Linked DNA regions of Homo sapiens: regions 1, 3, 4 and 5 are each linked to region 2. Evidence: fine-mapped expression QTL. A gene starts in region 2. Each other region holds a variant in brackets. All regions are shown on one strand. Distances are between the middles of the regions.

What was found.
Region 1: its variant is fine-mapped to the expression of IMMT in whole blood (INTERVAL, PIP 0.99).
Region 3: its variant is fine-mapped to the expression of IMMT in whole blood (TOPMed, PIP above 0.99).
Region 4: its variant is fine-mapped to the expression of IMMT in visceral fat (GTEx, PIP 0.96).
Region 5: its variant is fine-mapped to the expression of IMMT in macrophages (Alasoo 2018, PIP 0.95).

Annotation. Positions count from the first base shown.
Region 1 is chr2:86,167,993-86,173,093 of GRCh38, reverse strand. IMMT (inner membrane mitochondrial protein) reads left to right here. Exons shown (of 15, transcript NM_006839.3): 5 at 1,749-1,886; 6 at 2,250-2,345. Among named protein-coding and RNA genes, the nearest start is that of MIR4779, 23 kb to the left of the region's middle. The variant C/A (reference allele first, on the strand shown) is at 3,127.
Region 2 is chr2:86,193,057-86,198,157 of GRCh38, reverse strand. It overlaps IMMT (inner membrane mitochondrial protein), which reads left to right and starts at 2,696. Exons shown (of 15, transcript NM_006839.3): 1 at 2,696-2,820. The coding sequence starts at 2,776. MIR4779 (microRNA 4779) reads left to right here and starts at 5,050; the gene lies at 5,050-5,101. RefSeq lists enhancers at 2,706-2,825, 2,846-3,025, 3,146-3,195.
Region 3 is chr2:86,121,330-86,126,434 of GRCh38, reverse strand. PTCD3 (pentatricopeptide repeat domain 3) reads right to left here. Exons shown (of 24, transcript NM_017952.6): 8 at 4,841-4,956; 9 at 2,673-2,734; 10 at 1,353-1,440; 11 at 920-980; 12 at 555-640. Among named protein-coding and RNA genes, the nearest start is that of SNORD94, 12 kb to the left of the region's middle. The variant A/G (reference allele first, on the strand shown) is at 2,511.
Region 4 is chr2:86,225,441-86,230,544 of GRCh38, reverse strand. REEP1 (receptor accessory protein 1) reads left to right here. Exons shown (of 9, transcript NM_001371279.1): 7 at 3,147-3,182. Among named protein-coding and RNA genes, the nearest start is that of MRPL35, 29 kb to the right of the region's middle. The variant G/A (reference allele first, on the strand shown) is at 2,176.
Region 5 is chr2:85,493,283-85,498,387 of GRCh38, reverse strand. No RefSeq gene overlaps it. Among named protein-coding and RNA genes, the nearest start is that of PARTICL, 43 kb to the left of the region's middle. The variant T/CACACAT (reference allele first, on the strand shown) is at 2,839.

The sequences.
Region 1 (5,101 bases), 25 kb after region 2:
CTTTCTTTAATTCAGCAGAAATTTACTGTCTTTTCTGTGCTAGACATTCTTGTAAGTACTGGGGAAACAGCCATGAACAAAAACAGTTAAAAAATTTTTTCAGCTAATATTTCTTGATTGGGTGCGGAGAGGAAATAAACAAGTAAAACGTATAGGATGTCAGACATTGTGGGAGGGAATACTGCAGTTTTAAATGGAATGTGTAAGGAATACCTTACCTGGAAGGGGTTATCTGAGCAAAGATTAGAAAGAGATAAGGGGGGTAAGTCATGTAAAAGGGTGGTGGGGAAAAGCATCCCAGGCAGCAGGATTAGCTGGTGTAGAGGCTTGATATATTCAAACAAAGGGCAAATGAGGCTAGAGTGAATTGAGTAAGGGGAGAACAGGAGCAAATGAGGTCAGAGAGGGAGCAAAAAGTTTATTGTGGCAGTCCTTGGAAGCCATTGTAAGAATTTTATTTTAGGCCAGGTGCATGGGCTCATGCCTGTAATCCCGCACTTTGGGAAACCAAGGCGGGAGGATCACCTAAGCCCAGGAGTTTGAAAGTAGCCTGGGCAACTTAGCAAGATCCTGTTTCTATAAAAAATTAAAAATTAGCTGGGGATGGCGGTGCATGCCTGCAGTCCCAGCACTCGGGAGGGAGGACCACTTGAGCCCAGGAGGTTGAGGCTGCAGTGAGCTATGATTGCACCCCTACACTCCAGCCTGGGTGACAGGGCAAGACTCTGTCTCAAACAAAAAAAAACATTGTTTCATATGCTGGGTGGGATGGGAAGAGAATGCTGAGCCAGGGGATTGATAATTGACTGTTACTTTAAAACCAAGGCCGGGCACAGTGGCTCACACCTGTAATCCCAGCACTTTGGGAGGCCGAGGAGGGAGGATCACTTGAGCCTAGCAGTTTGAGACCAGCCTGGGCAAGAGAGGGGAGACCCTGTCTCTACAAAAAAATGTAAAAATCAGCCAGGTGTGGTGGTATACACGTATAGTCCCAGCTGTGTGCCAGAGGCTGAGGTGGGAGTATTGCTTGTTCCTGGGAGGTCGAGGTTGCAGTGAGCCATGATAGTGCCACTATTCTCCAGCCTGGGCAACAGAGTGAGACCTTGTCTCAAAAAAAAAAAAAAAAAAAAAAAATATACTACACACACAAAAAATTGATTGAGTGATTGATAGAGATGGGATCTTGCTGTGTTGGCCAGGTTGGTCTTGGCCTCCCAAAGTGTGCAAAAAATATATATATATATATGTATTTTAACTCAGTTCTGTTCTTGATCACTGTGACCTTTCATCTTTTTGTTTAAAACTGTAATCTTTTTCCTGCTCACACGTCTTCTACCACTCTTCAAAGCAATTAAAAAATATTCTTTGTTTAGTTGCTTTCTTTTGTCTGTCTTCATCATTAACAGGCTTTTTCCTTTGTTACTCTTTTTCCATGTGTAAATGTCCCCTTCTTGTGTGTTAATATTATTATTATAAGCCTTGCCTGGAATAATGATGGTTAAAATGCAGGTGGATGCAGACAAGACTTCTTTCTTTTGTTCGTTCCCAACCATTGTCCATTTTGTGTGAGTTTATGTATGCAGTGGACAGTGCCCCTGTTTGTGTGTTATTCAAACATGTGGCAGTACAAATATTTGTGTCTCTAAGGAGTCAGATGTGAAGTGGGTGGTGATGGTGGTAGTAAATTTCTGTGTGTTTCTCTGTTAACCCAGGAAAGTATAAATACCATGAGTAACATATATTTATAGCACCTACAGAAGCGGCTCAAATTATTTCTGCAGCAGGTGATACCCTGTCGGTCCCAGCCCCTGCAGTTCAGCCTGAGGAATCTTTAAAAACTGATCACCCTGAAATTGGTGAAGGAAAACCCACACCTGCACTTTCAGGTAATTTAATTATTTCTATTTGTTCTTTTATACATGATACACTCATCAGAACTATTTAATGCCTAGGCAACACGTAGACACTAAGTATACATTTACACTAGGTTTAGGTCTTCAGAGTTTCTTAGGAAATTTTTAAAATTTAAATGTCCGAATGTATCTTTTTAAACAAGAAGATTAAAGCCTGATTCCTATTTCTTCATTTTGGAATCATTAAGAGTAATGATATGGTTTTAGAATTCTTAACACAAAAATGCCCTGCATTGATATAACTGGCCAGTACAAACGATGCTTTTTTTATATCCCTGTTAGCTATTAAAATTCTATGCTGAAATTTGATTTCCTCTTATTTACTTTTGCTGCAAGAAGAAGCATCCTCATCTTCTATAAGGGAGCGACCACCTGAAGAAGTTGCAGCTCGCCTTGCACAACAGGAAAAACAAGAACAAGTTAAAATTGAGTGTATGTAAACCAGACAGCTTCTTAAGGATTTTGGGTCATCTCCCAGTTGCTCTCTTCTTAAACTATCAGCACAAGTTTGTCATCTATCACCTAGTTGTGGTTTCTTTTGTTGCTGCGGTTGTTTTTTAGTGGCATTGCTTTATTCATCACCTTCATTTCATCTAAACTTCTTTTACCTAAGTGACAAAGGCTATTCTTAGTGTATAGTTGGTGAAAACTCCAAATAATACTAAAGATTATGTTAGCGCTAAAGATTCTTTATACTCTGGGAAACAGAAATTGATTATTTATGTTTTAGCAGCTTGCCTAAAAGTCCTTTATTTATTTTTTTGAGATAGGCTCTTTTCTGTCACCCAGACTGGAGTGCGGTGGCACTGTCATGGCTCACTGCAGCCTCAACCTCCCAGGCCAAAGCCATCCTCCCACCTCAGCCTCCTCTGTAGCTGGGACTACAGGCGTGTACCACCATACCCAGCTAATTTTTTAAAAATTTTTTATAGACACAGGCATCTCACTATGTTGCCTAGACTGGTCTCGTACTCCTGGGCTCAAGTGATCCTCCCACCTTGAACTCCCAAAGTGCTGGGATTACAGGCCTGAGCCCTTGTACCCAGCCCTAAGAGTCTTTTATTAATAATTGTTAATTTATACTTGTAAATAATTGTTTATTAATAATTGTAAATTTATTTGTTGGAGTCAGAATGGCTTACACTGCCTTATCATCTAGCCTCTGGACTCTCTAGTAGTGCTTTTATCTGACACTGGTGGGGCATGGAATGTT[C/A]TACACATCGCTGGTTTCCAGCTAACAAGCATATTCCTTTTTAAGTTTCAGTTTTATGGTTTTTTTGTTTGTTTGTTTTTAAGAGATGGGCTCTTACTGTGTTGGTCAGGGTAGTGTTGGACTCTTGGCCTCAAGAAATCCTCCCACCTTGGCCTCCCAAAGTGCTGGGATTACAGGCATGAGCTACCACACCTGGCCAAGTTTTTTTTATCATTATTATTATTTTTGCTGTCCTCGGTAGGTCAGGATTCTTAAATTTTTTGATGGTTTAAAAAAGATAATAGATATTTATCAATTTATTTTTCTGTCTTAAAGCACATGTAACATAATTTTTTGTACTGTGCTATAATATGTTGATGTCTCTGGAGGTCGTGGGATGTAGCTTTTTGCTGGACAGAGAGTTCAGTACTCATGGCAGCTGTTTATAGTTTTTTGATCTCCTTGTCATTTGTTTTGCTCCTGTTTCCCTTGTAATGTGCTGGTTCTGCCCTACCCTGAGGAACCAAGTTTCTTAGAATAGCATAGGTGTCATTCTGTGCCTATGGCATTAGTTTTCCTACTTGGATTTGGATTTTCGTTTTTGATTTTTTGTATTCTTCTGATTGTGTTACAAATATTTGTGAATATTTAATAAATGACTTCTAACTAAGTGAAATATTTCATTTTTCCTACTTCTTTTTTCTTTTAGTCCTGTTTTTTCTTCACTTTTCACTTTTCTCTCTTTATCACTTGGGCACCTTGAAATTAAGTTATAAACGTAAGATGGAGATGTCTGCTGTTCCAGCTGTTCTTTTCCTTGCCTGGTTCCTCTCATCTTTCATTTTGGGCAAAGTGAAAATTTTCAGAATTTTATCTGTCACCTCTTAATTCCCCCTCAAACTTGACTTTAAAAATATACACATATGCATTTGCATGTGAAATATTTATCAAGGATCAAAGGACAGTGACTAAACCTCTGAAGAGGGCTGGAAGCAGCAGGTGCCTCCCAGCAGCCCACTTTCTGTGGCCTCCATAAAGTGGTTCACAACTGCCTGTACTTGATGTCCACTGTTCACTCACGCATGTCATGGGATCCAAATACCACGGTTTCTCTCCCTTGCCCCTTTCTCTTGTTGTATCCCCTGCTCTCATTTCACTTCTATCACTTCTGTCAATTTCTTTTTATTTTCTCCTTATTAGTTTTCCTCTTATCTTTCTTGCAGAGGTACCATTTGTAGTTCCTCAGATTCCATTTGTTCATTGCTAGTTTATGCTTCTTTTCCTCAAAATCATCTTTTTTTCTCGCTTGTCAAATACATTTTTTATTTTTTGTCATGTGATATCATTTATTTAATTAATTTGTTTTGAGACAGAGTCTCACTCTGTCACCTAGGCTGGAGTGCAGTGGTGCAATATCGGCTCACTACAACCTCCAACTCCCAGGTTCAAGCGATTTTCCTGCCTCAGCCTCCTGAGTAGCTGGGACTATAGGCACCCACCACCATGTCTGGATAATTTTTGTATTTTTAGTAGAGACGGGGTTTCACAATGTTGGCCAGCCTGGTCTCGAACTCCTGACCTCAGGTGATACACCTGCCTCGGCCTCCCAAAGTGCTGGGATTACAGGCGTGAGCCACTGCGCCGGCCCATTTATTATTAAATTAGTATTCTTACTAGCCGCCTTTCTTCAAATGACCATTTATTTTTGCATTTTAGTAAATTATCTAAAATTGTCATTTGCTTTACTTTTTGGTATTCCCGAAACAGCATATAGAAATGTGATCTTAATAGATGGAAGCCTCTTGAACATTGGTGTCTGCTATTTCTTGAGTCCTTTTATGGAAGAACACTGTCCATTTCAAGTTGCCTTTGGGTTTTGTTTTGTATTTTTTGACCTGTTTTCTTATTTGTCTTTTTCTTTCTCTTGTCTGTTTTCTTGTATCTTGTCAACATAAGTGTTTTGCTATGAGTATTCCTTCTTGCCAAGGGGATGAAA
Region 2 (5,101 bases):
GCCTTCCAAGTAGCTGGCACCACAGGCATGCACAATCATCCCCTGCTAATTTAAAAAAATTGTTTATAGAGATGAGGTTTCACTTTTTTTTTTTTTTTTTTTTTTTTTTTTTTTTTTGGAGACAGACTCTCGCTCTGTTGCCCAGGCTGGAGTGCAGTGGTGCGATCTTGGCTCTCTGCAAGCTCCGCCTCCCGGGTTCACACCATTCTCCGCCTCAGCCTCCCAAGTAGCTGGGACTACAGGTGCCTGCCACCACACCCAGCTAATTTTTTGTATTATTATTATTTTTTTTAGTAGAGACGGGGTTTCACCGTGTTAGCCAGGATGGTCTCGATCTCCCGACCTCATGATCCGCCCGCCTCGGCCTCCCAAAGTGCTGGGAGAGGTCTCACTCTTTTGCTCAGGCAGGTCTCAAACTCCTGGGCTCAAGTGATCCTCCCACCTCAGTCTGCCAAAATGCCGGGATATGAGCCACCACACCCAGCCCCTGGTAACAAATTTTTTTTTTTTGAGACGGAGTTTCGCTTTGTCCCCCAGGCTGGAGTGCAGTGGTGTGATCTTGGCTCACTGCAACCTCTGCTTCCCAGGTTCAAGTGATTCTCCTTCTTCAGCTTCCCACATAGCTGGGATTACAGGCGCGCACCACCAAGCCTAGCTAATTTTTGTATTTTTAGTAGAGACGGGGTTTCACCATGTTGGCCAGGCTGGTCTCGAATTCCTGACCTCAGGTGATCCGCCCGCGTCAGCCTCCCAAAGTGCTGGGATTACAGGTGTGAGCCACAGCGCCTGGCCTGCCTGATAACATTTTAAAGCAAAAATATTGACAACTTCCAAGTGGAGAGTGAGGACTCTCCACGTAGGTTATGAGGGGTTGGGAGGCTAATTTTGAGGTTTGAGATCTTGAAGCTAGAGAGGTTGCTAATGATGTTCAGGCGCAAGTTGTGGCTGTGACGTACATGACTGAAGCAGGATGAAAACATTCACTGGCATTGACAAATTCAAAGCCAAGGGTGTTAGAAAAGTCATCACACGGGCACCACATGACTGAAGCAGGATGAAAGCGTTCACTGGCATTAAGAAGTTCAAAGACAAGGGTGTTAGAAAAGTCATCACACCGGCACCACTGGGCATGACAGCAGTGGGCAGGGAGGCAGCAATTCAATTGCTAAAATTACTAAAGAAAACGGGAGACTGCTCTGGAAGCTAAGTGAAAGAGATATGAAACATATGTAATTACTGTAGTCCCCTAAAAACCATAGAACATAGAACATATACAAACATAACTATTGCTTTCAGATAATTTTCAAGTCCATCTCTCCATGCTACAAGTCATAGCGCAGTCTACCTCTAGAGAGAATACATATTGTAATAAATTACCCAGTTAAGACTTGGAATACTTTGCAAATCCAATAGAAGATAGAAAAGTTAGTTTCCACGATATTGCAATAAGATGCTAATAGTATTAATACGAACATATTAATTCTGGAGTATACATGGAGTATTAATACCATGCTTAATATTTAACGTGTTTTATTTTGATTACAGAATCAATGGAATACTTTTGTTTTTTGAGACAGAGTTTCGCTCTTGTTGCCCAGGCTGGAGTGCAATGGCGTGATCTCGGCTCACTGCAACCTCCGCCTCCCGGGCTCAAGCAATTCTCCTGCCTCAGCCTCCCGAGTAGCTGGGATTACAGGCACCCGCCACCATGCCCAGCTAATTTTTTGTATTTTTAGTAAAGACGGGGTTTCACTATTTTGGCCAGGCTGGTCTCGAATTCCTGACCTCAGGCGATCCACCCGCCTTGGCCTCCCAAAGTGCTGGGATTACAGGCGTGAGTCATAGCTCCTGGCCCTACTTTTCTTTTTAAATTTTTTGTTTGTTTATTTTTCTATATAGAGACGAGGTCTCACTGTGTTGCCCAGCCTGGTATCGAACCTCTGGGCTCAAGCGATCCTCCCGCTTCGGCCTCCCGAAGTACTGGGATTACAAGCGTGAGCCACCGCGCCCTGCCCAGTGGAATACTTTCAACGGTGCTTCTGCATTGACTTCCCATCTTCCAACCCATCCACAAACTGCAGCCAAAATGATGTTACTACAGTAACAACTTGGAGAAAGCAGTGTGGCTTAATCTGGAAGGAGCAGAAGCTGTGGAGTCCAAAGGACCCGTGTTCCTATCCTTGTTGTGCCACTTGACACGTTTAGCACAAGGGTCCCCACAGTGTTAGTTCACCGTCTCCAGCAATCACTATGACTCCCTGGAGGGCTGTCAAACGAAACAAAGGCGCAAACTGAGACAATTCCATTGTTTACGTAACTTTCGCCAAATCGGCTCCTTCCTACGAAATATCCAGCTCATAGAGCAGGCTGAGATGCTTTGTTGCTTTAATTCTCTTTAAGAGTCACAGCTGTCCATTTTCCACGTGCGGCTGAAGAATGGATTTCAGAGCGCTCTCCCTCCGGCAGTGTTCACCTAGTAACCCCTTCCGGATAAGGACCTGCAGCCCGGGCGCGACCCGGAAAGGGAATCCGCCCTTTTCGCCTCCTTCGCGCCAATCGCCTGGAGTTGGCGTTTCCGCAGCCGGGACACAGCCCACCCTCTAAGAGCCGCGGAGTCGGGGACGGTAGAAGGGGCCGCGCGTGCGCAGTGGCGTCCGCTGTGCTTCCGGTGCGCCGGGCGCGGACGCGGGCACGCACACACGCAAGCACGCCTCCACTTAACTCGCGCCGCCGCGGCAGCTCGAGTCCACCAGCAGCGCCGTCCGCTTGACCGAGATGCTGCGGGCCTGTCAGTTATCGGGTGTGACCGCCGCCGCCCAGGTGAGCACTGGGGCTCCCGGAGGCGCGTGAGGAGGCTGAACTAGAACCGTCAGCGAAAAACGGGGGAGCCTTGGTCGCTGCCTAGCCTCCAGGACAAAGGCGAGCCTCAGGGCCACCCTCGTCGGGAGAGGCCCGGGCGGGCAGCTAGGCAGCCACCAGGGAGTTCGCCGGACTGGGATGACTTGAGGTTATTGCAGCAGCGGGGTGGGGTGTGGAGAGTAGCGGGAGGCGCGGCTTCGTGGGCATGTAGTCCAATCAGGGCCGCGCTGCCCCCGTCCAGGACCAATCCTGGCTGCTGGCGTCTGGGTCGCCGGTTGGGCGCGCGATAGGTTTTCAGTGCTGAAGGTCGACGGGCGAGAACTACAGTTCCCGTCAGGACGAGCGGAGCGGCGGCTTGTTGCATCCTTAATAAGGAGGTGCCTGGACTTCTAGCGAGAGTCCACATTTTAGGGGTCAAGGTTGTAATTATCTGGGAGGGAGTGCCTTTCTTTTCGCAGCTGAGAACACTTCTGAGTTATTCTTAATCCAAACAAAAGCGAAAGATTTTCATTTGTGGAGCTGAAACTCCTGGTCTTCAAGGAAAGACAGGAGTCATGACCTTGTGGCTCATTTCTGAGATTAGGGCAGGGATCTGTGTCTCCAGGCGCTGGGACTACTTTGACATTCAAGGAGCCTAAATACCCAGTTACTTCTAGTTTTGCGTAATTGCCAAAGTTACTTTCTAAAATTGAAAATTAAAAAGCCTGTTTCCACTGCTCATGATTTTCAGGAAGTTGATATTTTGGCAAAATGTAGATAGCAAACCAAGTACTGTGACTCAAGCAGTAATTGAACAGAATCCCTAGGAATAGTGAGTTAGAGATCATAAAAGTCAAGCTTTGTTTTTTCAAGTTCGCTTCTCTTCCTATTTGCTGCTAGGTAACAGAAGCAGCCCCTTCCATAGGAAAGTGGAACGAACCTGTGTTAGTTTTCTATTGCTGCGTAACAAATACCACAAATTTAGCAGCTTAAAACAACACCCATGAATGACCTTACGGGTTCTGTAGGATAGAAGTCTGGGCACGGATGATCTGTGTTCTCCGCTCCAGGTCACATAAGGCTGCAAAGTATTAGCCATGCTGTGGTTCTCATTTGGAGATCAGGGTCCTCTTCCAGGCTCATGCAGTTTGTTGGCAGAATTCAGTCCCTTGCAGTTACAGGACTGAAGTACTTCTTTTCTTGCTGCCTCTTGCCAGCCACTGCTCCCAGCTTCTACAGCCTGCCTACAGTTCCTTGCCTCAAGGCCTCTAGAGGCCATTCATAACATTGATGTTTGCTTTCGTGCAGGCTACCAGGAGCTTGCCTCTCTGACTTCCAAATTTCTTTTACTTTGGTCTTTCCTCTCTAGACCCAGATTTAAAAGGCTTATGTGATTAGACCAGGCCCACCTGGATGACCTCCTTTTCAGTTAATTCAGAGTCAACTTTTTGGGATCCCATTTGGGAATTAAGAAAACTAATTAAAACTTGGTAATAAAAAATGAACCCTTTTATAGCTCTGAATCAAGATGTCTAAGCTTCTTGAAATTGCTGTCTTGTAAAATTCTTTGGTTTATTCTCACCATCTCCTTAATTCTGTAGCATTTGACATTGCTGCTTTATGAGGCTCTTTGTACTTTTGGCTTCTCTCAAGTAATATTTTGGGTCCCATCTCTCTTGTTTTCCTTTACTGAGTCTGCTTCTGCTTTGTACCTCGAAATATACACCTTCTCATCTCTTCCTGTCTCTTTATAGACTCTCTAATTTGAGATTACATCAACTCTCAGAACTTTAATCCCCAAGCAGGTGACTCTCTAGCCTCGTCGTATTTGATTGTATCAACGTATCCAGAATATCTCACTTGTCAAGATCCTTTCCACTTTATTAAACCCCATCTTTCTTTTTTTTTTTTTGGATACGGAGTCTCACTTTGTCACCCAGGCTGGAGTGCAGTGGCACAGTCATGGCTCACTGCAGCCTTGACCTCCTGAGCGCAAGCAATCCTCTTACCTCAGCCTCCTGAGTAGCTGGGACCACAGGCATGTGCCACCATCCCTGGCTAATTTTTTAAAAAATTTTTGTAGAGACGGAGTCTCTCTGTGTTGGCCAGGCTGGTCTCGAACTCCTGGGCTCAAATGATCCTCCCACTTCTGCCTCCCAAAATGCTGGGAATATAGGCACGAGCCACCGTGCCCAGCCAACCCCATCTTCTTAAATGTCTTACTGCTTTTACTGTTCCCTCCTAGAGTCCATTCTTTACTCTA
Region 3 (5,105 bases), 72 kb after region 2:
AATAAATGAATAAAATGGTCCAGAATTCTAGCTCTATACTCTCGGTCAAGCAACTTTTTCTTCTTATGTGCCAGACACAGCTGAGTCCCAGGGCTGCGGAAAGGGTAGTGAACAGGTAACTGCTACACAGTGACTGCCATACACATGCTCATAAATGCTGTCTCCAGCCCATGTACTTCTGTTTCTTTTTCTTTTTTTTTTTTTTGAGACGGAGTCTTGCTCTGTTGCCCAGGCTGGAGTGCAGTGGTGCGATCTCTGCTCACAGCAACCTCCGCCTCCCGGGTTCAATAGATTCTCTTGCCTCAGCTTCCCAAGTAGCTGGGATTACAGGCGTGCACCACCACGCCCAGCTAATTGTTTGTACTTTTAGTAGAGACGGGTTTCACCATGTTGGCCAGGCTGGTCTCCAACTCCTGGCCTCAGGTGATCTGCCCGCCTCGGCCTCCCAAAGTGCTGGTATTACAGGTTTGAGCCACCACACCTGGCCAGCCCATGTATTTCTGGTAAAGAGTATTTAAGCCCTATTAAAAAATAAACTGAGGATTCCTCCTTACCAGTATTTTACTCCATTTTTCCTCAAATTTCTCATTTATCGCACATACTGTTGCTTCAATCAATGCATTAAATGTGTATACATCAGCTGTAAAATAATAAAATGATAAAATTTGGGGTTGAAGATTAATCCCTAAATGGCTGAGTTTAAGGCAAAGCAGTCATTCCTATGTGTCCCTTGACTAATCACATGTCCACAAAACTGGAAAACTACTCTCCTCTCTGGATCTCTACTCTTGCTTCAATCATCTACGCCTCAGGAAAAGGTAAAGTGTAGGCCAATGACTGAGGCACGATCCAAAGCCTTCACACAGACAATTAAAAGAAGGAAATGGAGAAAGGGACAGAGGGGAGTTCTCAAACTCACCATGGAGTCTGTTGTTTAGTAACTCAGTGTACAAGTTTAATGCCTGCTCATAAGCTCGGTGCTGGAAAAGGAAAAATTAAGCATCATCAAATTCATTTACTTAAGAAGTCCTTGCACATTTCTGTCCTAGAGTTTGGTAATATAGCTCAGGCTCAATAGATCAGGCTCCTGTTCTCATGAAGCTCATACTCTAGTGCAGTGGGATTTTCTATCCACTGGTAATGCCTAAACATATTTTTATTTGTCACAACTGAAAGTGGGGGAGGAGTACACTACTCACATCCAGTGGGTAGAAGCCAGGGAGCTACTAACATCCTACAATGCACAGGACAGACCCCACAACAAATTACCTGACCCAAAATGTTAGTAGTTCTGAGGCTGAAACACCCTGATCGGTGGAAATGAAAGACAAAAATAAATAAAACAAATGTACCTTCACCATTCCTCGGATCATTGTGCAATAGGAATGTTCATTTTTCTCTGGCATTAGAGAAAAGATTCTCTCAGCGTTGTTTTTTGCTCTAGACACAAGAGAGTAAATGTGAACCCAGGCAATAAGAAATACCAATGAGAGCTACCACCATTTACTGACGGTTTATTATGTTCTAGGCAATGTGCCAAGTACTTTCTATACATTATCTCAATTCTTACAGGGTATTATGGTTATTATCATTTTGAAAATGGGGAAAATCAAGACTTAACGATCTTAATGTGTTGTCAGGGCTTCGCAGGTTAAGTGGCAGAATTACAATTGAAAATGAAAAGTTTATAAACAAGTATATAAATATCTGTGCTATTAAAAACAAGAAGCAACTGTATGACAAAGTCCCTAGTAAAGTTTCCTCACCTTTCTTCAATCTTCAGATACTACTTCCCAGAGGCAAAACGGTTTCTTTTGGATCCTTCTGGTCATATTCTAGCATATGTACTTTTAACTCTTCTCTCATTCCATAACCTCCACCTCCTGGGTTTAAGTGATTCTCCTGCCTCCACCTCTCGAGTAGCTGGAATTACAGGCACGTGCCACCACGCCTAGCTAATTGTTGTATTTTTAGTAGAGATGAGGTTTCACCATGTTGGCCAGGCTGGTCTCAAACCCCTGACCTCAAGTGATCCACCTGCCTCGGCCTCCCACGGCACCAGGATTACAGGTGTGAGGCACTGCGTCCAGCCTACCCCAAGGAATTTAATCTTTCATCCTATCAAATTCATCACTTCAATAACAATTTTAGATAATCATGGTAGCTTTCCCTCTCCAGACATTCACATGAAGTGTCTTCCTTTTAGACACCCAGCTAATTCTCCAATATAATTAAGTTATTACCTTTCATTCAAACTGCTGTGTATGTCTACATGTTGTCAGTGGTCTTAATTTAGCAGTACACTCTAGTGTCCATGATATTTTTAGTAAACAAAAGTATTAAATCTTTCAGAATTAGAGGTATATATTCCAAGGTAGCACTGTTAATGAAACTACCAAAGGAACCATACCATATGAAAGTTATGCTGAGTTAAACAGATGAGGGAAAAAAAAGGGTCAAAGTCTCAACAGATTCTTGTGTTGTTGAATGGAGATAAAGACCTTATTGAA[A/G]AACGGTCTAAATGTGTATGAATACAAATAGTGAAATTTATATTGCACAATAAAAATCAATTATTTTAGAACATCACAAGAAAACATCTTCACAGGGTGATGGGGCATATTCCATGCACTGTAAGACACTGTAATTCAAGGTTCTAATTACGTGTGACATACCGCCATGTAACTCCAAACTGATGACCAGCTTTCCTCCTAGATGTCTCATCATTTTCCTCTTCCTGAAATGAATAATCATCAAAAGAAATAAAAGTTAAGGCAATGGAATGCATTTCCCAGTCAGACTACTCAAAATCAGAAAGGCAAAGGGAACTCAGAAAAATAAAGGAAACATAGATCCAGCAGAAGGCAAAGAGGAAGCCCAGTTACGCTTACACCTATACAGTTAATTTCTTAAGTGCAAATCAGATGAAAGGCCAAGTTGACTCTCAAAGCAACAAGTGACAGCGTGGAGACAAGATGAAGCCAGTTCCCTGTATGGCCTGGTCCTCAGACAGAAAGAGGAAAACCAAACAACACAGCCTATTTGCTCAGAGACTACATCTGGCTTGATCCATACAGATAAACTGTCATAATTAGGGTGAAAGCAAGATAAACAACATATAGTTAATGCCTAACACTCACCCAAGCAAACTAAGACTTCTTTTTTTTTTTTTTTTTAAGACAGAGTCTCGCTCTCTCGCCCAGGTTGGAATGCAGTGGCGTGGTCTTGGCTCACTGCAACCTCCACCTCCTGGGTTCAAGGAATTCTCCTGCCTCAGCCTCCGGAGTAGCTGGGACTACAGGCGCGTGCCACCACGCCCAGCTAATTTTTTGTATTTTTTTTAGTAGGGACGGGATTTCACCATGTTAGCCAGGATGGTCTCGATCTCCTGACCTCATGATCCACCCGCCTCGGCCTCCCAAAGTGCTGGGATTACAAGTATGAGCCACTGCACCTGGCAAGACTTCTTACAAGAATAAATCTTGTCTTTATTTATAAACCAAGGTCTGGGATGAGGCTGACGTAGAGCAATACAGGCTTGGTTGGCATTGCAGAGGTCAGTGTTGGCTCTGTAGCCTGCTGCCTCAAGAGCTGGGGCTGGAGAGGCAGAGGGCCAACCAGAGCAGGGCTTCAGGAAGTGATACTCTGGAAAGCAAGGTTTAACTGCAACCTACTGCCTATGCACTTTTAAAAATGTAAAGTTCTCTACATAAATAATCCACATTTGGCCAGGTGCAGTGGTCAGTAATCCCAAAACTTTAGGAGACTGAAGGATCACCTGAGCCCCAGAGTTGAAGACACCATCCTGGGCACTACAGCAAGACCCTATGTCTACCCGCCCTCCCCACCCCAAAAAAAACTAGCCAGACATGGTGGCCCACACTTGTGGTCCCAGCTATTTGGGAGAATGAGGAAGGAGGAACACTTGAGCTCAGGAGTTAAAGGCTGCAGTAAGCTATGATAGCATCACTGCACTCCACCCTAGGTGACAGAGTGAGACCCTGTCTCTGAGGGGGAAACAAGAAATCCACATTTAGTTGGGCAAAGAGTAGAAAAGATAGAAACGAAGAAAAACACCAATAATCCCATCACCCAGAAACACTTTTTAAATGATTTTTTTGTATGCATTTGTAAAAACATTTTTACAAAAATGGAATATATACTGCTGATAGCCTGCTTCCCACTTATTGGATGAATGTTTCCATACCCAAACACATCTACTCTAATGTGCTCAATGGCCACACAACTTTTATCATCATTTGATCATCTACTGTTGGACATCTAGATTGTTTTCAACATTTTTGCAAGTATAAATACCTCCTCATGAAAAATGTCACATGAGCATCTCTATTTGACTGATCCAAAGGATTTCTTGAGACCTAGTTCTAGAAGTAAAATTCGCGAGTCGAGAGAGAGGCTATGACTCAACTTACAGGCGGGCCCCGGCACACTACTGTTCTGTCTCCAGCCTAGTGTGTTCTCTCCTCTAAGTCCACGTATGAATTTTTGAGGGGGCCCAGGCCACGGAGTCTTTCCCTGGCCAGAATACATCATGTCATTACTCTAAGTGGCACAGGCCAGCCCAAACATTTCTGATCAACGCTTTGCCTTAATATGAAGTAGGTGAGGACAACATATTGTTAAAAAGTAAACTAGGACAGAAGTAACTGTTTAAAATCTCTCTTCCTCCTATACCACTTTTTATCAAGGCTATCGTACCACACATCTCAGTACAAATCTCTACTACCCTGACACATGGCAAAACAACCCATCTTATTTTTAAAAGCAATTTCTTCAAAAAGAAGCTTAAGGAAAAAAAAAAATCAAGGCCAACAGTTATTACCAATGCTTCTGACTGTCCAGTTTGTTGAAAATGGTAATCAGTTGAGGGCTCCTGGTCACCATAGTAACACAATAAATCCAAGAGACTATTTGTTGTTTCAAGAGACACAGTGGTTCCTGTGGGTAAGAGACAGAAAGATAAAGAAACCTTGAAACAATGAAGAACTAAAGCCTGTTAGGTTAAAATGTGTCATTTTTTTATATTAGCGGTGGTCTTCAGGGCTACACACTTAATGTTGTCCACTACTTTATGCACTCAACGTCAA
Region 4 (5,104 bases), 32 kb before region 2:
AGGACACAAGCCAAAGCTGGATGGTCAGGTTCGAGGGAGGGATTCCTGCTTTGGCTAGGAAGCGGGCTTAGGTGGCCCTGGCGTCCCTTTGCCTCTAAGAGTCTGTGTTGCCATTTTAGAGGTGAGCCCAGTGGAGGAAGCAGGCTCAGAGAGGTTGTGCACTGGGCTGAGGCCCCCAGGCCCAGAATCCAGGCCTCCTGCCTAGACCTCCCCTGGTGAATTATTCAGGGCAGCCTCAGAACTGGGAATGCAAGAAGCTGGCAGGGTCTGCAGGGAGATGGCAGTGTCTTCTGGGCCTGGAGTATCTTCCCAGCCCAGCATCAGGTAGAAAAGCATTTGGGATGATTTGCTTTGGCACTGGCTCTGCCACTCTCCATGAGCAGAGGTGATGACGTCCCCTGCCATGCCCCAGGGAGGCAGTGGGGAGTGTTCTGGCTGTCCCAGGCTGAGAGGACCAGCTGTGCTGCATTATGCCCCAGCCCTCCTCACTGCTGGCCCCCTTGGCCTCCGCACCTATGACCACAGGGGGCAAAGAGGAAAGGTGCAACCCAGCAGGGAGGCCAAGGACAGTGTAGTGCTCTTTCCAGCTGTTCTGGAGCCTAAAATAAAAGCCATCTCAAAAAGGAAGACAGGAGCTGGGTGTAGTGGTTCACGCCTGTAATCCCAGCACTTTGGGAGGCTGAGGAGGGTGGATCACCAGAGGTCGGGAGTTCAAGACCAGCCTGACCAACATGGAGAAACCCCGTCTCTACTAAAAACACAAAATTAGCCAGGCGTGGTGGTGCATGCCTGTAATCCCAGCTACTCATGGAGTAGCTGAGGCAGGAGAATCGCTTGAATCGGGGAGGCGGAGGTTGCAGTGAGATGAGATTGCACCATTGCACTCCAGTCTGGGCAACAAGAGTGAAACTCCATCTTTAAAAAAAAAAAAAAAAAAAAAAAAAAAGGAAGACAGGTGAAAGATGGCCTGGGGCGTGGATATGGGGCAGAATTTCCTGGGTCAGAGGCTCTTGGGCTATCATACCCTGAAGTAAGGTCAACATGCCTAGGAGGAAGTCTGGCAGAGGAAGCCAATTTATACCGGGCTGGTGTACTCTCCCCAGCTCAGCCCCCAGTGTGGGCCTCAGATGCCAGGCCAGATCAGGTAGCAGAAAGGGCCCCAGAAAAGGGGAAGAGGCTAGACTTCATCCTGGCTGGGTGATGCCGGGCCTGTGCAGACACAGCAAATGCAGCACAGCAAGGCATGCTCCTTCCTCCTGAGCCTCAATTCAGCCTCAGAACTTCTCTCAGAACAACCCAGGCAGTCGCTACCATAGATTTGGCCTTGGCACAGAGGACAGACCTGATTCCCTCAGGCTTTCTTCTTTGTAAAAAAGACCGAATAGTCCCTATTCAGCCTATGTCTTAGGGTTGTGAGGAGAGCAAACCAGAGAATTTGCAAACCCTGGACAGGTGGCAGGGGTTGAAGACAACCTGGAGAGAGGTGGGAGCTGCACCTCGTGGAATTCTCTGCAGCTGCTGGAAGCAACAGATTAAGGGTGCACACAGTGGAACTTGAAAGCATGATGCCAGGTGAAGAAAAGTGCAAAACAGAATGAGATTTTATCTAACAATTTATGTAAAAAATATATGCCTATCATGCAAAGTAACAATACGGAGTTTATATGAAGAACATGTTCAAACAAAAAGTTGCACATTAAAATATTAAAAGTGACACTCCTTGAGGAGGAAGGAGAATGTGAGTGGGGTGTGGGAATAAAAGTCATGTAAAGGCACATAAAAAGGGTTGCCAGGCGCGGTGACTCACGCCTGTAATCCCAGCACTTTGGGAGGCCAAGGCGGGTGGATCACCTGAGGTAGAGAGTTTGAGACCAGCCTGACCAACACAGAGAAACCCTGTCTCTACTAAAAATACAAAATTAGCTGGGCGTGAAGGCGGGTGCCTGTAATCCCAGCTACTCGGGAGGCTGAGGCTGGAGAATTGCTTGAACCCGGGAGGCAGAGGTTGCGGTGAGCTGAGATCATGCCATTGCACTCCAGCCTGGGCAACAAGAGTGAAACTCTGTCTCATTAAAAAAAAAAAAAAAAGTGAAGGGGATCCCATGAACCAGTGTGGACCATTTGCTGTGAGCCAAGAAGGGACATCCATGTGACCTCCTGCATCTTGAGAAAAGG[G/A]AGGAAGATGCACACAAACGAGGAAGGGAGGAAGGGGCACAAAGACTGTCCCTGCACGGTCACTCAGCGCTGCAAGCTCCTGGCAGGCAGACAAGGGTTCTGTGCTTCCCTCTGTAAATGCCTACCCAACATACTCACCACATGCCTGGCACACAGAGACCTCTGTATGTGCAGTGAGGACACAGGGTCTAGGCGTTGGAGAAGGGGAAGGAGAGTTCTTTCCTGTTGCTTTCAGCACCCAGGATGGGGCTGGGCAGTGTACTTGGCCTGACCCTCTCTCTTGCCTGGAGTTTTCCTCTTTGCTTAAAGGGTCAGGGCAGGCAGGGACTGACATGGCCCTCCCTGCAGAATGAGCTGGAAGGTGTGTAGTCAGATACCATATGCTGAATGCCTAGCACTGGACACCAGGAAGTGTACAAGAAATGTTGAAAGAATGATCCTGGCCTTCCATGGACTTGGAGTCACTCAGTGAGCATGTATTTAGTGAGCACCTACTCTATTGCCAAGGCCCAGATGTGCACCAAGACCAATGGCGTGTACAAGGCAGCAGCCAGTTAGGCCTTTGCAAATGCCCAGATGCGAAGCACTTTGGGGTTCAGAGGTAAGTCTGGGGAGGTTTCCTGGAGGACATTCTGAACTGGAAAGCAAAGAGAGGAGGAGGCTTTGGGCAGGGGTGCTTGGAGTTATTTTCCAGAGGGAACTTTGACTCTGTCTCCGGCCTTCCCTAGGGCTGCAGGGTGCAAGGACTGACTTTGTGTGCCAGGTGAGGGTATCTTCTGCACCTGAGCAGAAACTGAATCTGAGATGACTCTTTCCCCACTTTGGTGTCTCTACAGAGACCCACCTTCCTGGGATCCCTATATTGTACACACTGGGATCCCCACACCTCTCCAGGGCCTCCCTGTTTGCCCGGGGCTGGTTCCTGTCCAGTGGGGGATGTCACTGATGGTGCCCCTACCCCATTCCCACAGTGTGTACCTGCTGCTCCACCTGCAGGACCTGGAAAGGTGAGTAAGCAGCCAGCCTCTCCGCAGCGTGCTGGACTCTCACTCGGAAAGAGCTTCTAACCAGGAGTGGGCACCTGACCCTGGGGCTCCCTTTCAGCTGCATGGTCATAGGGAGGGGTCAGGAGGTTAACCCTTTATAACAGCAAACACAGTAGCTTACAGTTCCTGTGGGCTAGAAATCTGGGAGCAGCTTAACTGGGTGGTTCTAGCTCAGGGTCTCTCAAGAGGCTGCAGTCAAGATGTCAGCCTGGGCTGAGTTATCGGAGGGCTTGACGAAACTGGAGGGTCCACTTTCAAGATGGCACTCTTATGGCTGTTGGCTGGGCCTCTCCAAGGCTGCTTAAGAGTCCTTACAACGTGGCAGGTGGCCTGGCCTAGAGTGAGCCATTCAAGAGATAGAGGGCAGGCAGGAAGCCAGGGTACCTTTTCTGTCCTAGGTTTTGAAGTCACACTCATCACTTCTGCCTTATTCTATTTGTTGGAAGCAAGTCATTAAGCACAGCCCACATTCAAGGGGAGGAGAATTAATCTCCACCTCTTGAAGGGAGGAGTATCAAAGAATGTGTGGAGATATCTTAAAACCACCACAGGGTCACTGGGCGGGGTGGCTCATGCCTGTAATCCCAGAACTTTGGGAGGCAGAAGTGGGAGGATTTCTTGAGCCCAGGAGTTCGAGACCAACCTGGGCAATATAGCAAGAATTAATCTCTACAATTAAAAAAAAAAAAAAGCCAGGTGTGCTGGTGTGCACCTGTAGTCCCAACTACTTGAGAGGCTGAGGCAGGAGAATTGCTTGAGCCTGGGAAATCAAGGTTGCAGTGAGCCATGATCGTGCCATTGCACTCAAGCTGGGTGACAGAGCAAGACCCTGTCTCAAAAAAAAAAAAAAAAAAAGAAAAGAAAAAGCCACAACAGGGTCATACTTCCTTGTGCTCCAGGTAAGGACACAGGAACTTCAGAGGACTAAGGTCCTCTGAAATGATGAAGTCCTGAAGTTCCAGGGGTTTCTGGTCCTGGGGCAGCCAAGGGAGCCCTGTTCCTGCTTTGCCACTTACTTGCTGTGCAACTTTGCGTGAATCACCTAACCGCTGTGAGCTTCAGTTCCTCCTCTTAAAACGGAGATGAGATCCCTGCTTCCCGGCCTCACTGTGCTGTTGTGAAAGTGGCTGTGAAAGGGCCATAATAATCCTGGGAAGGATGATGAGGATGATGATGATGATGATGGTGGTGGTGGTGGTGGTGATGATGGTGGTGGTGGTGGTGGTGGTGGTGGTGGTGGTGGTGGTGATAGCCTGGAGCATCCAGGAGACCCCAGGGAGAGTGGAGGTCTCCCGGTTCTGGACAGAGACTCCTGTTGCTGCCCTCCCAGCGTGTGAGTGATGGCTTGTTGGAGCCACAGCCACCTGGTGGTTGCCATGACCTGCTTCTCCAGTTGCCTAACCTTAAGTAGACACATTAGGGACTAGTGAGGGTCCTGGACTAATCCAGTGCCCCTTTCACACTGCCTGGCTCCCCATAGAGAAGCTGCCTTAGGCTTGGAAGGCAAGAGGGGCCGTGCCTGGCCTGCAGCCTGCTGGCTGGTGTCAGGGGAGGAAGGAAGGCACGCAAGGTGCCTAATATAGCTTTTGCTCCAGCCCTGGTGCCGCGGAGGCATGACATGCCCCTCCCACATCGGCAGTGAGCAAGACAGGAAACTGCATTATGTGACGTGTCCTGTTTTCCCTGCATTGCTTTATTTTTAAGGCTCTCAGTGCTCAGCTTTTTAAGTCCTTTATAGAAGAGCTGGGGATTAGGACAGGCGCAGTGGCTCACACCTGTAATCCCAGCACTTTGGGAGACCGAGGCAGGCAGATCACTTGAGGTCGGGAGTTCGAGACCAGCCTGACGAACATGGAGAAACCCCATCTCTACTAAAAATATAA
Region 5 (5,105 bases), 700 kb after region 2:
TAATTGAACAATTTCTTCCTTTTAGTCAACCTCTTAAAATGAAGAGGTTGACCAAACTTTATGTATTGCTGTCACTTTGTCACCATAGCAAATAGACTTACTTGGTTTCAAATCCCACTGAGAAATAGTGGAACACTGTGTTTTATAAGGTGGAAACGAGGAATTTAGATTCCCTTTTTGTAAAGGGTAGAGCAGAGACGACTTCCTTATTATACTATAATCCCCTCTTTTCTGGAGAAAAAAAATCTGGTCTCTTTGGGGATCCATATGCTTCCTTAAAGTTTTAGTTTGATTGTGCTGCATTTAGCATGAGTTGACTCCATTTGGTTAGATCCAATCTAGTCTGTTGGGGCCTAGTGCATGAGTTCAGTCCAAAACAATGGCCTCCCATAATTTTGTTGAACAATTCTCCCCTTTTGATCATGTTGTCACTTAAGTGAGAGTGTGACCAAAACATCGCTAATTGCTACTCTCAGTTATGATCATTTTGGGTTTCTGGTCTCAACATGTCTTTCATAGGTTATAGTGTCCTCATGATTATGTATTTCTTTGAGATTTTGTCATCCCAGTTGAAGAGAGACCATTTGACATTCTATGCATGGCTGCATTAAACATTTACAATTTTTGAGAGGATATATTTCACCAGGGAGATGACTATTATGACTACCAGAAGGACAATACCAAGAGTTTGGAGTATGCTGCTTAGCCAGGGTCCCCATGAACTGAACCAACTAAAATTAAATAGATTAAAGAATAAGCTTGATAAATGGTCTACGAGTTTCGACCAAGCAGCCAGTTTTTTAATCCCCTGCAAATGAATCTCTATAGTACCTGACATATTCATCCATGTGCAACAAGAAGTGTCAGCAATTGGCTGGGCATGGTGGCTTACACCTATAACCCAGCACTTTGGGAGGCCCAGGCAAGAGGATTGTTTGAGCCCAGGAGTTCGAAACCAGCTCGGGCAACGTAGTGAGATCCTGTCTCTCTCTCTCTCCTCTCTCTCTCTCTCTCTCTCTCTCTCTCTCTCTCTCTCTCTCTCTCTGTGTGTGTGTGTGTGTGTGTGTATGTATATATATATATATATATGTAGTCAGCAACTGCACAGATTCTTCTCTGTTCAGCCAGTAAGTAGCCTAGAGCAGTTCTATTATGTAGCACAACTTTAGCAAAAAGTTTAAAGAAGTCTTTAGCATAGTGTTTATAGTTGAATCTGCTATAGAGTCTACTATGAGGGACAAATTTCTAATCATTGCCTCATTTACCCCAAATCATGGAAAAAGCAACCTAACGAATTATGCCCATTCAGAAGGGTGAAGGCCTCCTGGCAACGTTTGCTTCAACCTATAATGTAGGTTAAAAGAAATAGACCAATGTTCTGTTTCTGACTGATTATGGAGCTACAAAGGTACCGTGAAAATTCCTCACCCACTTTGGCCCTTCATCTTCTATCCATCAAGGCATAAGGTTGCTCATGCATAAGGTTAGCGGTGAAATCCTCCACAAATAAAAGTATACCCCATGGGTCCACACAAGACTTTTTCTAGTTCTAGTCTTCATAAAGGCATAAGCGAGGAAAAAATTAAGAGAGGTAAGAGTCTCATGATGGCAAAGAAGTCTTGATCTGTCATCTTGAGAAAGCTTTCCACATCTAGGATTCCATCTGCTTCTGGTGAGAAACTTCCCTGGTTAGCTTTATCTTGAGGTCTCCAACAGATATACAGTTCTAAGAGTCTGGAGGGGCCCTTCTGAGTTGTGAGATTACAGACCCAAGGTTCAAAGTCCTAAAGTTTTGCTGCAGTGTGGGTGGCAAGGTGTGTTGTTTCTAGAAGACCCAATCTCTATGTTCTTGATCATGAAGGATTTAATTGTCCTCAGTCAGTGGATCATGAAAACCTTCCTTACCTGGTGAAAATGCACTTTGGCATAATGCATTAAAGCCACAGTTAGCCATATCAAAGTTTAGGAGCAGAAGATACATGAGTTTTTGTTTTGTTTTGTTTTGTTTGTGTGTGTGTGTGGTTTTATTGTGTGTGTGACAGAGTCTCGCTCTGTCACCCAGGCTGGAGTGCAGTGGCTCAGTCTTAGCTCACTGCAACCTCCACATCCCGGGTTCACGGGATTCTCCTGCCTCAGCCTCTCGAGCAGCTGGGATTACAGACATGCACCACCATGCCTGGCTAATTTTTGTATTTTTGTAGAGACGGGGTTTCACCATGTTAGCCAGACTGGCTTGGAACTCCTGACCTCAGGTGATCCACCCGCCTCGGCCTCCCAAAGTGCTGGGGTTACAGGCGTGAGCCACAGCGCCTAGTCATGAGTTTCTATTATTAGGGGCATAGGCCTTCCAGTGACTGTTTTATAAAGGGTCAACTGATGTTTTCTGCTGAAAGTGGATCTAATTGTCATCAATCTGCAATACCTTTGACCAAGACAATCCAGTTGATTTACTTAGCTTTGCCTAGTACTATTTTGTCTGTAGTTTCTTATTTAACTGTTTTACAATTTGTTCAATGAAACAAATACATTTATCACTGGAGATTTCTCCAGGAATGCCCCCTGAAAAAAACACACTTCCTAATAAACTTTTAGCTACTGTTATATCATCAGACTTCTTTCGTGGGAAAGCTTCTATACAACCAGAAAATATGCATTCCGAATGACAATTGAATGAACTCCCTCTATAAATGTTCAAATGGCCAATCAGGTAGCAGAAGTGTACCTGAAGTTTTTATTGTTTCCCCAGGATTATGGATTTGACAAACTAAGCATTGGTCAAAAACCATTTTAGCAATTTAAAACGGTCACACCACACACACACACACACACACACACACA[T/CACACAT]TTTCTATTTGGATCATTTAATCTCTACCATAATGTGTCATGGAGTACAGAGCTTCTAAGAGTGGAAGCTTTAAGGATTCAGGAAGGATGAGGCAGCTGTCCAGGCTCTCCATGAGTTTATGCTTAACATTGGATGTATATCTTCTTCAATACCAATTTTGTTTTTCCAATTCAGGTGAATAGTACTGTTTAATAACTGGGTTGGCCTGGTGCAGTGGCTCACACCTGTAATCCCAGCACTTTGGGAGGCCAAGACAGATGGATCTTTGAGTTCACAGATCAAGACCAGCCTGGGCAACATGGTGAAACCCCATCTCTACAAAAAATACAAAAACCAGCCAGGTGTGGTGGTGCATGTCTGTAGTCTCAGCTACTTGCGGGGCTTAGGTGGGGGATGGGGAAGGGGTGGCGAAGGAGGTTACAGTGAAACGAGATTGCACCACTGCACTCCAGCCTGGGTGATAGAGCCAGACCTTGTCTCAAAATAAATAAATAGGTAAAAACTGGGTTATCACAGGTAATCTGACTTGGACCATGGAGTTCATTCAAACTGCATATCCTAACAATTTCAGTACTGGCTGATTTAGCATGAAAATCTGGCAATGGCCGGTCATGGTGGCTCACACCTGTAATCCCATCACTTTGGGAATCTGAGGCGGGCAGATCACTTGAGTCCAGGAGTTCAAGACCAGCATGGGCAACATGGTAAAATCCTGTCTCTACAAAAAAATACAAAAATTAGCTGGGCATGGTGGCACATGCCTGTCGTCCCAGCTACTTAGGAAGCAGAGGTTTCAATGAGCCGAGATCATGCTATTGCACTCCAGCCTGGGTGACAGAATGAGACTCTGTCTTTAAAAAAAAAAAGATGTGCTTGTCAGGGTCCTTTATATTCTTTCCATGAACCTCCTTGAAGACACAACACTCTATGATTTTACTTGCTCGTAAAGAGCTTTCAGAAAATGCATCAGAATTAAGTAATTAACTGTGGAAACAATTTAAAATCGTCATAGTTAAAGACCCAATTGACAAGGAAATTTGGTTATTTCTGTGGACTGTAATAATTTAACATAATAGCCATAACTGTGACTTATACCAAGACATATCAGAATTTTAGGAATCTCATACAGTCTTATTTTGTTTTTGTTTGTTTGTTTGTTTGTTTTTGAGACTAAGTTTTGCTCTTGTTGCCCAGGCTGGAGTGCAATGGTGCGATCTTGGCTCACTGAAACCTCCATCTCCCAGGTTCAAGCTATTCTCCTGCCTCAGCCTCCCTAGTAGCTGGGATTACAGGTGCCCGCCACCATGCTCAGCTACTTTTTTTTGTATTTTTAGTAGAGATGGGTTTTCACCATGTTGGCAAGTCTGGTCTCAAACTCCTGACCTCTGGCAATCCACCCACCTCAGCCTCCCAAAGTGCTGGGATTACAGGCATGAGCCACCACACCATGCCTTGTTTTTTTTGTTTTTTTTTTGTTTGTTTGAGACAGGATCTTGCTCTGTCGCCCACACTGGAGTGCAGTGGCATGATCATGGCTCAGCCTTGACCTCCTGGGCTCAGGCAATCCCCCTGCCTTAGCCTTCAGAGTAGCTGGGACCACAGGGCATGCCAACATACTTGGCTAAATTTTTTATTTTTGTAGAGAAGAGATTCCTATGTTGCCCAGTCTGATTTCAATCTCCTGGGCTCAAGGATCCTCTTGCCTTCGCCTCCCAAAGTGCTGGGATTACAGGCATGAGCCACTGTGCCCAGCCAATTTTGGAACATACATTAATAACATATCCAAAATGTAATTTGAAAGTTAAACATCAGGCCAGGCACGGTGGCTCACACCTGTAATCCCAGCACTTTGGGAGGCTGAGGAAGGCGGATCACCTGAGGTCGGGAGTTCGAGACCAGCCTGACCAACATGGAGAAACCCCATCTCTACTAAAAATACAAAATTAGCCAGGTGTGGTGGTGCATGCCTGTAATCCCAGCCACTCAGGAGGCTGAGGCAGGAGAATTGCTTGAACTTGGGAGGTGGAGGTTGCAGGGAGCCGAGATTGTGTCATTGCACTCCAGCCTGGGCAACAAGAGCAAAACTCAATCTCAAAAAAGCAGAAAAGCAAAACAACAAAAAAAGAAAGTTAAACATCATTTCTTATTTGACAATGCTTCCCATGTCACTTAAAATATTAAATAAGCCTGCTTATTGTCTCTCTTTTGGATGCTGCAGGGGCCTCCTGTAGCATTGCAAAGTTAGTTTGTGGCCTAAAAGACTTAA